Regions from separate parts of the Homo sapiens genome. Here region 1 is linked to region 2. The links come from fine-mapping of genetic effects on gene expression. A gene starts in region 2. The other region holds a variant in brackets. All regions are shown on one strand. Distances are from middle to middle.

What was found. PIP is the estimated chance that this variant, and not a neighbour inherited with it, causes the effect.
Region 1: its variant is the best candidate, but not a certain one, in a credible set for the expression of RTP4 in substantia nigra (GTEx, PIP 0.72).

The regions. Positions count from the first base shown.
Region 1 is chr3:187,345,642-187,351,173 of GRCh38, reverse strand. No RefSeq gene overlaps it. Among named protein-coding and RNA genes, the nearest start is that of RTP4, 20 kb to the left of the region's middle. The variant G/C (reference allele first, on the strand shown) is at 2,805.
Region 2 is chr3:187,365,728-187,370,727 of GRCh38, reverse strand. It overlaps RTP4 (receptor transporter protein 4), which reads right to left and starts at 2,343. Exons shown (of 2, transcript NM_022147.3): 1 at 2,132-2,343. The coding sequence starts at 2,286. RefSeq lists an enhancer at 2,133-2,482.

The sequences.
Region 1 (5,532 bases), 20 kb after region 2:
CACAGCCAGGTGAAAATGTGCTTGAGAATGAAACCAGTACAAAGGGAAGCTTTAAGTACTTGTTTCCAGCATGCCGAAGAACATTCTGCCATATCTTTTGGTAATATGAACAAATCAGCTCCCTTTTTTTCTTAAGTCACTTTGACATGATTTCATTTACCACTTATAAATTAGAATTTTCTATATGTTTATGTTTTGTGCTCTCATCAAGTTTTAGCATCAGACATATCAATGCTAGCCCCATAAAAAGATGTAGGCAGATTTTCATATTGTTTGCATTCTTGGAACATGTTGGAAAGCAAATAACGCATACCTCCTTCCACCTTTATTTACAACACATTGAAAGATAGACACTGACCTGGGGGAAATTAAAATACCATACACCCTTTATTACCTGCAAAGATGGCCTGAAGGACATGAGCTCTGCGGACAAAGTGGGATCCTCCTAACAGAACTTTCCAGGCAACTGGAAGGTTCTGGAGAACCACAGCCTCTCCCACTGCCACCCCTACACCCACATACACAGGGTGGGGAGGGGTGGAGAGCCTTGTCTGGAGTCAGTTTTGGTTTTCTAATTTTCCTAAAGAATTCTGTATTTTGTTTAGATTTTCATCTAGTTATACTTTCCTCATTTCTAATGCTTTATATTTTTATTTTCTCCCTTCATTCAAGGCCCAAATTCCAAAGGACTTGCCTTTTTTTTTTTTTTTTTTTTTTTTTTTTGAGACAGAGTCTTGCTGTGTCAGCCGGGCTAGAGTGCAGTGGCATGATCTCAGTTCACTGCAACCTCCGTCTCCCAGGCTCAAGCAATTCTCCTGCCTCAGCCTCCCGAGTAGCTGGGATTACAGGTGTGTGCCACCACGCCCTGCTAATTTTTGTTTTTTTAGTAGAGACAGAGTTTCACCATGTTGGCCAGGCTGGTCTTGAACTCCTGATCTCAGGTAATCTGCCCGCCTCGGCCTCCCAAAGTGCTGGGATTACAGACGTGAGCCACTGCACCAGGCTGGACCTGCGTATTTTATTTATCTTTTTGAAGAATCGCCCCTTTTATCCATTAATTGTATTTTTTCATTTTTAGCATTCAGAGTCATTAATTTATGCTTTTATTTAATTAATTGTATAATTTTATATATGCATCTATATGGCTTATTTTGTTAACTTTTCTGTATTGAATTGAAGGCCTGGTTGTTATTTTGGGCCTTTTGAATTTAAATGTATGAATAGTGCTTATGCTTAGTACCAGCCCATACTTTTGCTGTATACTGTTCTTATTTTTGTTGATTTTTATATCTCAGAATATAGTTTTGATTTGATTTACAATTTTTTAAAGAAATTTGAGATTTTACTTGTTTAGTTTTTGTTTTTTTCAGTAGGTCTCAGTTTTGATCTAGCATTTATGTGGATCTAGCTTGATTGTGTGATAGTCCTAGAATGCAGTACACATTTTTTTTCCTGCTTCTATGGGCATATAATATACATTCTTTATAAGGTACCATATGCTAGATTATCTAGTAAATTCATCCTATTAATTATGTGACTAAACTCATTAATATTCTATTTTTGGTCTATTTGGTCAATTAAATTTAAAGACAAGGTGTTTAAAAACTCTTTTTTGTACAGAAAAATTGGAATGAATAAAAATTATTTAATTCTAGTGAGTCAAATTTTATTCTTATATCTAAGAACTGTGCTTTCTATATCTAGCAATACATTGTTTAAAGTGCATATAAGTTTATGACAAATATGGTCTTGATGTTTTAAATCAAATAGAAAATATTATCTTTTTCCATTTTTACTCCTGGCCTCAAAATTTATTTTTGAAATGTTTTTACATGTGTGTTTATTCATTTATGTTTGTTTTTGTTGTTGTTGTTTCTAGACGGAGTCTCGCTCTGTCACCAGGCTGCAGTGCAGTGGCGTGATCTCAGCTCGCTGCAACCTCCGCCTCCCAGGTTCAAATGATCCTCCTGCCTCAGCCTCCCAAGTAGCTGGGACTGCAGGCACGTGCCACCATGCCCAGCTAATTTTTGTTATTTTTAGTAGAAATGGTGTTTCACCATGTTGGCCAGGATGGCGATCTCTTGACCTCGTGAACCGCCCACCTTGGCCTCCCAAAGTGCTAGGATTACAGGCATGAGCCTCCACGCCCAGCCTATTTATTTTATTATATGCTTTTATGAGGCAAAATGTGATTTTTTTATATACGTGTACATTGTGGAGTGATTAAATCAAGCTAATGAACATATCCATCATGTGACATGCTTATTTTTTATGGTGAGAACTTCACAATTTTCAAGTATACAGTACATTATTATTAAATATAGTCACTAGGCTGTACAACTGATCTCCAGAATTGACACCTTCCATCTAATTGAAACTTGGCACCCTTTGACCAACATCTCCCCTTCACCACCCCACTCCTGCTGCCCCAGCCTCTAGTAATCGCCATTCTATTCTCTGCTTCTATGGGTTCAACTTTTTTTAGATTCCACACACAATTGGGAAATAGTCTCTTCAATAAACAGTGTTGGGAAAACTGAATATCCACATGCAGAAAAATGAATTTGGACCCTTATTTTATCCTATATATAAAAGTCAACTGAAAATGGAGTAAGGACTTAAATATCAGCCCTAAAACTATAAAACTTCTAGAAAAAAAGTAGGATAAAAGCTGCTTGTCATCGGCTTCAGCAAAAATCTTTTGGATGTGACTCTAAAAGCACAGGCAACAAAAGCAAAAGTGGACAAATGAAATTGCATCAAACTAAAAAGCTTACACATACCAAAGGAAACAACAGAGTAAA[G/C]AGACCAACTCTAGAATGGGGGGAAATATTTCCAAACTATGTAACTGATAAGAGGTTAATAGCCAGAATATATAAAGAACTCAAACAATTCAATAGGACGAAAGAAACCCAATTTAAAAATGAACAAAGGACATAAATAGATATTTCTCAAAAGAAGACATTCAAATAGCCAACAGGTATATGAAAAAAAATGTTCAACATCACTAATCATCAGGAAAATGCAAATTAAAACTACAATAAGATATTACCTCACACTTGTTTAAATGGTTTATATCAAAAAGACAAAAGATAACAAGTGTTGGTGAGATGTGGAGAAAAGGGAATACTTGTACACTGTTAGTGGGAATATAAATTACTATAATCATTATGGAAAACAGTGGAGGTGTTTCTCAAAATAGAACTACATATGATCCCACTACTGGCTATATATCCAAAGGAAATGAAATCAGTATGTCAAAGACATAACTCCACACTCATGTTCATTGCAGCATTATTCACAATAGTCAGATGTGAAATCACCCTAAGTGTCCATCAGTGGATGAAAAGATAAACAAACTGTTGTACCTCTATCCACTGAATACTATTTGGCCTTAGAAAAACCTGTCCTTTGTGGCTGGGCACGGTGGCTCATGCCTGTTATGCCAGCACTTTGGGAGGCCAAGGCGGGTGGATCACAAAGTCAGGAGTTCAAGACCAGCCTGGCCAAGATGGTGAAACCCCATCTCTACTAAAAATACAAACATTAGCCGGGCAGGGTGTCACCCACCTGTAATCCCAGATACTCAGGAGGCTGATGCAGAGAATTGCTTAAACCCAGGAGGTGGAGGTTGCAGTGAGCTGACATCGCGCCACTGCACTCCAGCCTGGGCGACAGAGTGAGACTCCCTCCATCTCAGAAAAAAAAAAAAAAAAAAAAAAAAACAAGAAAAATATGTCATTTGCAACAATATAGATGAACATGGAGAACATTATGCTAAGTGAAATAAACCAGCCATAGAAAGAAAACATTTGGGTTTTATGGTTTGTTTGGTTATAAAATATTTGATTACAAAATATAGCATACAGAAAAAGATGCATAAAACGTAAATGTGTGACTTAAAGAAGACTCATCTGTTCACTACCCAGGCCCAGTAACAGAATGTAGAATATGATGGAACTCTAAAAGCCAACAGTTCTTTTCAATCTTACCCTCAAGTATTAACCACTCTCGTGACTTTTATAGGAATTGTCTCCTTTCTCTTCTTCATATATCATCCACCAAAGTGTGTATTCCTTACTTCAAGGTTTAGATTTGCCTTTATTAAATTTACACTATAAAAATTATTTAGTATAAATTTGTTGTTTTACTTCTTTTGCTCAGTATTATCTTTTAAAGATTTACTTGCCTTTTGGGGAGCTATAGCTTTTTGGGTTGTTGATGATGCTTTATACTATTCCATGGTTTAAATATATGTTAATTTATTTTTCTCTTCCACTATTGTCTGCCATTTGGGTTATTTCCACTTTGGGGCTATTTCATATAGTGCTGCCATGAATATTCTTAAACAAATTTCTTGTGCATACATTTACATTGATTACACAACAATAAGTAGATTGTATTGTATGATACACATACTGTGTATCATCAAATTTGGGATTTGCCAAATATTGTACAAAGGGATTGTATCTATTTATAAGTCCCACAGACATGTATGAGTTTCTGTTGGCTCACATTCTCAGTGATACATGATTAGTCTTTTTGACGATAATGATTCTGGTGACTATATAGTGATACGTTCCAGTGGTTCTAATTGTGCATCCCTGAGATTACTAATGAAAGCGGTGCTTTTTCACATGTTAATTTCCCATTAAGTTTTCTCTTTTGTGCAATGTCTGTTCAAAATTCTTGGTAACTCTTGGGTTGTCAGCCATTTTCTTATTTATTTGTTTTTTGAATTATATTTTCTTCATACGAATCCCTTGTTGTAAAAATCTTCTCCCACTCTATGGCTTGTTTTTTCACCCTCAATAATATCTTTTGATTAACAAAATTTCTTCATTTTAATATACTCAAACTTCTCATTCTTTTATGGAAAAGAAATGTGTGTTTTTCGTGTCTTTTTAAATTAACTTTATAGGCCGGGCCCTCTGGCTCACACACCTGTAATCCCAGCACTTTGGGAGGCCGAGGCGGGTGGATCACCAGAGATCAGGAGTTCGAGACCAGCCTGACCAACATGGAGAAACTCTGTCTCTACTAAAAATACAAAATTAGCCAGGTGTGGTGGCACATGCCTGTAATCCCAACTACTCGGGATGCTGAGGCAGGAGAATTGCTTGAACCCGGGAGGCGAAGGTGGCGGTAAGCTGAGATCTCACCATTGCACTCCAGCCTAGGAAACAAGAGTGAAACTCTGCCTCAAGAAAAAAAAAATAAACAAACAAACAAACAAACAAATAAATAAATAAATAAATATTTACTGGAAATAGAAATTCTTCTATTTTATCTTATAAAAATATGTATTTTTTTGTTAAGTCTGTCACACTTAGGTCTCAAATCTCTTGAAATTAGTTTTTGCACGTGTTGTGAGATAGGGATCAAGCTTAGTATCTTTTACTTAGATAAAAAAAATACCCTTTCTCTACTGCTCTGCATTATGACCTATATCACATATCAAGTACTTATCTCTGCTGGAGTCTGTCTGTGGCTTCTCTAGTCAAGTTCATTGACTACATCCTTGTGCTGATA
Region 2 (5,000 bases):
GGTCTTGGCCCCTGTCACTAACATCCTTTTCCATTTGAAAAAATGCATGTGATTTAGATTGTCCCAGTCATTGATAAACAGGAACAAGAAGGACTATGTTTCAGATAAGGCTTTTTCCTGTGACCTACTGAGTATCCACCCATATGTTACACCCAAGTCTACCTCTTTGCTAGTAAAACATCTCCAGATGCCTCTGAGGGAAAATCATGTCTGCCATCTTCCAGAGAAACTTATTCCTAATTTTGGTCATAGAAAGCTTTGGTAAAGTATCTATTTTGATGCATACAATATAATTGGTCTTTATAATTTTATCCCATTTCATCTGTGAAGTAAGCACTATTAAACCCAATATCCAGATAAGGAAACTGAATCATGAAAAGGATACGCAACCTGCTTAAGGACACACAGGGTAAATGTTAGAGGCATGCTGCTAATCTCAGGCCATCTGAAATTCAACTCATTTACCTGCTGTAACACGTTGCCTCTGGTGAGTAGTGTAGCTAATCTCTCACACCTGGAGAAACAGACTGCATCCCTCATACCTGGGTTGAAGATCCAGTTTACATCAGGAAGACCTTGGGCAAAGCCCTTCCCTTCTATAACCCTCATTGTTTGAATCCATAAAAAAAAAATTCAAGGGTTATATTGGCAGCATCAAAAGAGACGATGTATGTGAAAACACTTTGTAAACTACAAAATGCTTTTCAAAAGCTGATTGATATTTTCCAAAAGTACACTGGTAGGTTGCTTTTCCGATCTCGAAATGACAATCAAATCAAATCATCCCAACAGGAGAAACACCTTCTTTCTGTTTGGAGGAGTGCCAAAACGTTGTAAGACATCATGAGTCCCTCAAAAAGCTCTGGCTGGTGTGGACAGAAATATTTACACATTTCCCTGGATTAGAAAGCAGAGCAACATGACTGCTATACGGGCTCTGACAAGTGACTTGAGAACTGTTCTGGAGACGTTTAGGAGGCTTTATTTAAACAACAGATTCTGCAGCTAAAAATAAGCATATACTGTATTTGATACAATATATAATAATACATATATTATTTATAAATTTATTATTCTGAAATACATAGTACATATGTATATATAATTATATATCATTTATGTATACATATACATATATATTTTATCTTATCCCATTATCTTATGGGAATGTATACGAAGGAATACTTACTCTGCCTAGGAGAACCAGAGAATGCTTTTAGGAGGAGGAGGCACTAGAGTGGGCCTTGAAGGATGAGCAGGGAGGGGTGAGGGGAGGGTCTGCTGAACAAGCAGAACTCCATGAACAAGAGTGTGGAAGTCTGAAGATGCATGGCATAGCTAATAGTCCATAAGGAATGGAGTAGGCCATACCTGAGGCAGGATGGGGCAGGCAGGCAAGCTGAGTAATAGGTCAGATGAAAACTATACCGAAGGTCCTGTGTGTCATTTAAAAATAAATTTGATTATCCAGGTCAGCAATTCTCACCCTCCTAACATGGTCAAGGAAACTGGTTCCTGCAACCTGGAGGCTTGCTGGGGGTTAAAGAGGGAAGTGGTGAGTAAGGGAGGAGTATTACTTGGTGACTCCATGAACTGGGTTTTAGATTTAGTTTTTGCAACATCATTCTATACTATTATCCCCAGGCCTTCAGTAAAGCAATGTTCAGAGTAACTGCTTGATCTTAGCCAATTCTTAAGATATTTAAAAAAAAAAAAAAGGCTCCGTCCCAGGCTTGTACTGAACAGTGCCAAGGCTTGGAGAGCTGGTGCAGCTGGGGGAAGCTGGTCAGGACTGCTGGGGAGACTGCAAAAGACTCTAGAGGTAGTCTGGAACAAATGACGTGGTGAGAAACTAGAAGGGAAAATTTATGGAATAGGGAGCCTTCTCCAGGGTTTTCCAGAAATATTTACGGAGGGAAACCTAGTAAAAGAAGAAACTTCCAGCAGTTAAACAAAATGGAGGTTTGGAGTCGTCTTATCATGTCGACCCTAAAGAGTACTATGACCACAATAGGATGGAGGCCCTGGTGACATTTACTCCTTCAACAAGCTCTCAGAGGAATAAATCATGCTAAGCTGAGCCTGAGCCTCTCTTCTCAGAAGAGCTATTGCCTGGGAAACCCACACTCACCAGCCAAATGCTCTCTGTTGGTATTGCTTCCACCCTTGAGCCAGGCAGTCTAGCTGAAGGTTGCCATCCAACTTCAGCGTCCATGTGGCCCGGGGTTTTGCCTCTTGGATTAGTTCTTGAAATGTCTGCTCCCAAGTCCAGAAATCTACAACCATTTTTTCCCTCTGAAGCTGAGAGAGTAGCTTTCAGGTTTGCTCGTTTCTCAGGAAGAGACAAACAGTTTCAGTTTCGGTGTTCGGTTCAGTTTCTGTTTCTGTGTATGGACATGAGCTGTTTTTTTCAACCTTCATTTTAGACTGTCTGAGTACACAGAACAAGTCTTTGTTCTGAAAACAGACAGCAGCAAAACTGTGTTAGTTAATAGGCCTTGCTGAGAGAGAGATAAAGAGCTCTGTTCTAGATTCTGGGGTCACATATAAATTCGCTTTTATTTTCTCTCTCTCATTTTTTATAATAGGCAAAGTGAGAGGTGACAGCATGCTGGTAGCCCTCGCAGCCCTCGCTCGCTCTCGGAGCCTCCTCGGCCTCGGTGCCCACTCTGGCCGCGCTGGAGGAGCCCTTCAGCCAGCCACTGCACTGTGGGAGCCCCTTCCTGGGTAGGCCAAAGCCAGAACCGGCTCCCTCAGCCTGCTGGGAGATGTGGAGGGAGAGGCACGGGCAGGAACCGGGGCTGCATGCAGGGCTTGCAGGCCAGCTAGAGTTCTGGGTGGGCGTGGGCTTGGCGGGCCCTGCACTCGGAGCGGCCGGCAGGCCCCCAGCCCTGGGCAGTGAAGTGCTTAGCACCTGGGCCAGCAGCTGCGGAGGGTGCGCCAGGTCCCCCAGCAGTGCCGGCCCACCGGCACTGAGCTCGATTTCTCGCTGGGCCTTAGCTGCCTCTCTGTGGGGCAGGGCTCGGGACCTGCAGCCCGCCATGCCTGAGTCTCCCCACCCTGGGCTCCTGCATGGCCCAAGCCTCCCCGACGAGTGCCACCCCCTGCTCCATGGTGCCTGGTCCCATCGACCGCCCAAGGGCAGAGAAGTGCGGGCACACACGCAGGACTGGCAGGCAGCTCCACCTGCTGCCCCCGGGGCGGGATCCACTGGGTGAAGCCAGCTGGGCTCCTGAGTCTAGTGGGGACTTGGAGAACCTTTATGTCTAGCTAAGGGATTGTGAATACACCAATGGGCACTCTGTATCTAGCTCAAGGTTTGTAAATGCACCAATCAGCACCCTGTGTCTAGCTCAGGGTTTGTGGATGCACCAATCAGCACCCTGTCAAAACGGACCAATCAGCTCTCTGTAAAACAGACCAATTGGCTCTCTGTAAAATGGACCAATCTGCAGGATGTGGGTGGGGCCAGATAAGAGAATAAAAGCAGGCTGCCCCAGCCAGCACTGACAACCGGCTCGGGTCCCCTTCCACGTGGTGGAAGATTTGTTCTTTTGGTTTTTGCAATGAATCTTGCTGCTGCGCAGTGTTTGGGTCTGCTCTGCCTTTATCAGCTGTTAACACTCACCCGGAAGGTCTGCAGCTTCACTCTTGAGCCAGCAAGACAATAAACCCACCAGAAGGAAGAAACTCAGAACACATCCGAACATCAGAAGGAACAAACTCTGGGCACTGTGCCTTTATGAGCTGTAACACTCACCATGAGGGTCGGTGGCTTCATTTTTGAAGTCAGTGAGACCAAGAACCCACCAATTCCGGACACAAAAGCACTGTTTTTGGCACTGGGAAAAGAGTATCCTGTAGCTAAGAAACAATTCCTGCCCCCACAGATGCTCACACCCAGGTGGAGACAGGGAGGTTAGGAGCAGCGTAGGGGAGCACGTGTTTAATGCTCATCTCCTACACCCCATGTATCCTCACCAGTCCCGCGAAGGATTATTCTTGGAGTTTTGCAGGTTAACTGCACAGAAAGCTGGGGTACTTTGTCCAAATCCCCTCAGTTAACGAGCAGTGGAAGTGAGACTTGAACCCGGGTCTGTGTGACTCCAAAACCTGCCATGTGTCCGCCCACCTCACTCCCTGAAGAGAAGCTGAGAATGGCATTTCAGGTTCCAGGCTGGCACACTGGAGCCAGTGTCAGAGGAACCGTAGGGAGATTTCCTGGGTCCTGAGGCAGGAGGTCAGCTGCATGAAGGGATTATCAAACTCTGCCCTCCACTCTGTAAATTATGTGGAAGGGCAAATACGCACAGGTGTGGGGGCCGTCTTTCAGTGGTAGGATACAGAGAATTCCCATTTTGGGGTAAGGGATTGAGATGAGATGACCTTTAAAGACACTTGTAAGTCTAAAACGCGGAGATTCCAGAGAGTAAGCTTTGTCCTCCTGGGGCTTAAATTCAAATAGGGGAGATAGGACAAGCAGGATGCTTACTTAGGTCTTTAGAACACCCGCTACAGCTTCTGTGTCTGAGACAGGATCAGCCTCAGTCTTCCTGGGTTTTCTAGGCTTCCATGTGCCCTGTCAGCGACTCAGAGACACCCTCTCTCTTTCCTTCCCTTCCTGGATACCTGTGTCTATACACATGATATAGGAAGCTCTAAGAACTTGTAATTGGATCCACAGGATGTTAGAGTTGGGAAAACCCTTAGAAATCAACTTATCCCTTTTCCCTTTAATTTTTATACACGAGAAAACTGAGGCTGGGCACCGTGGCTCACGCCTGTGATCTCAGCACTTCGGGAGGCCAAGGAGGGTAGATCACTTGAGGTCAGGAGTTTGAGACCACCTGACCAACATGATGAAACCCCATCTCTACTTTAAAAATTACAAAGTCAGCCAGGCATGATGGCGCATGCCTGTAATCCCAGCTACTTGGGAGGCCAGGGCAGGGGAATTGCCTGAACCCAGGAGGCAGAGGTTGCAGTTAGCCGAGGTCATG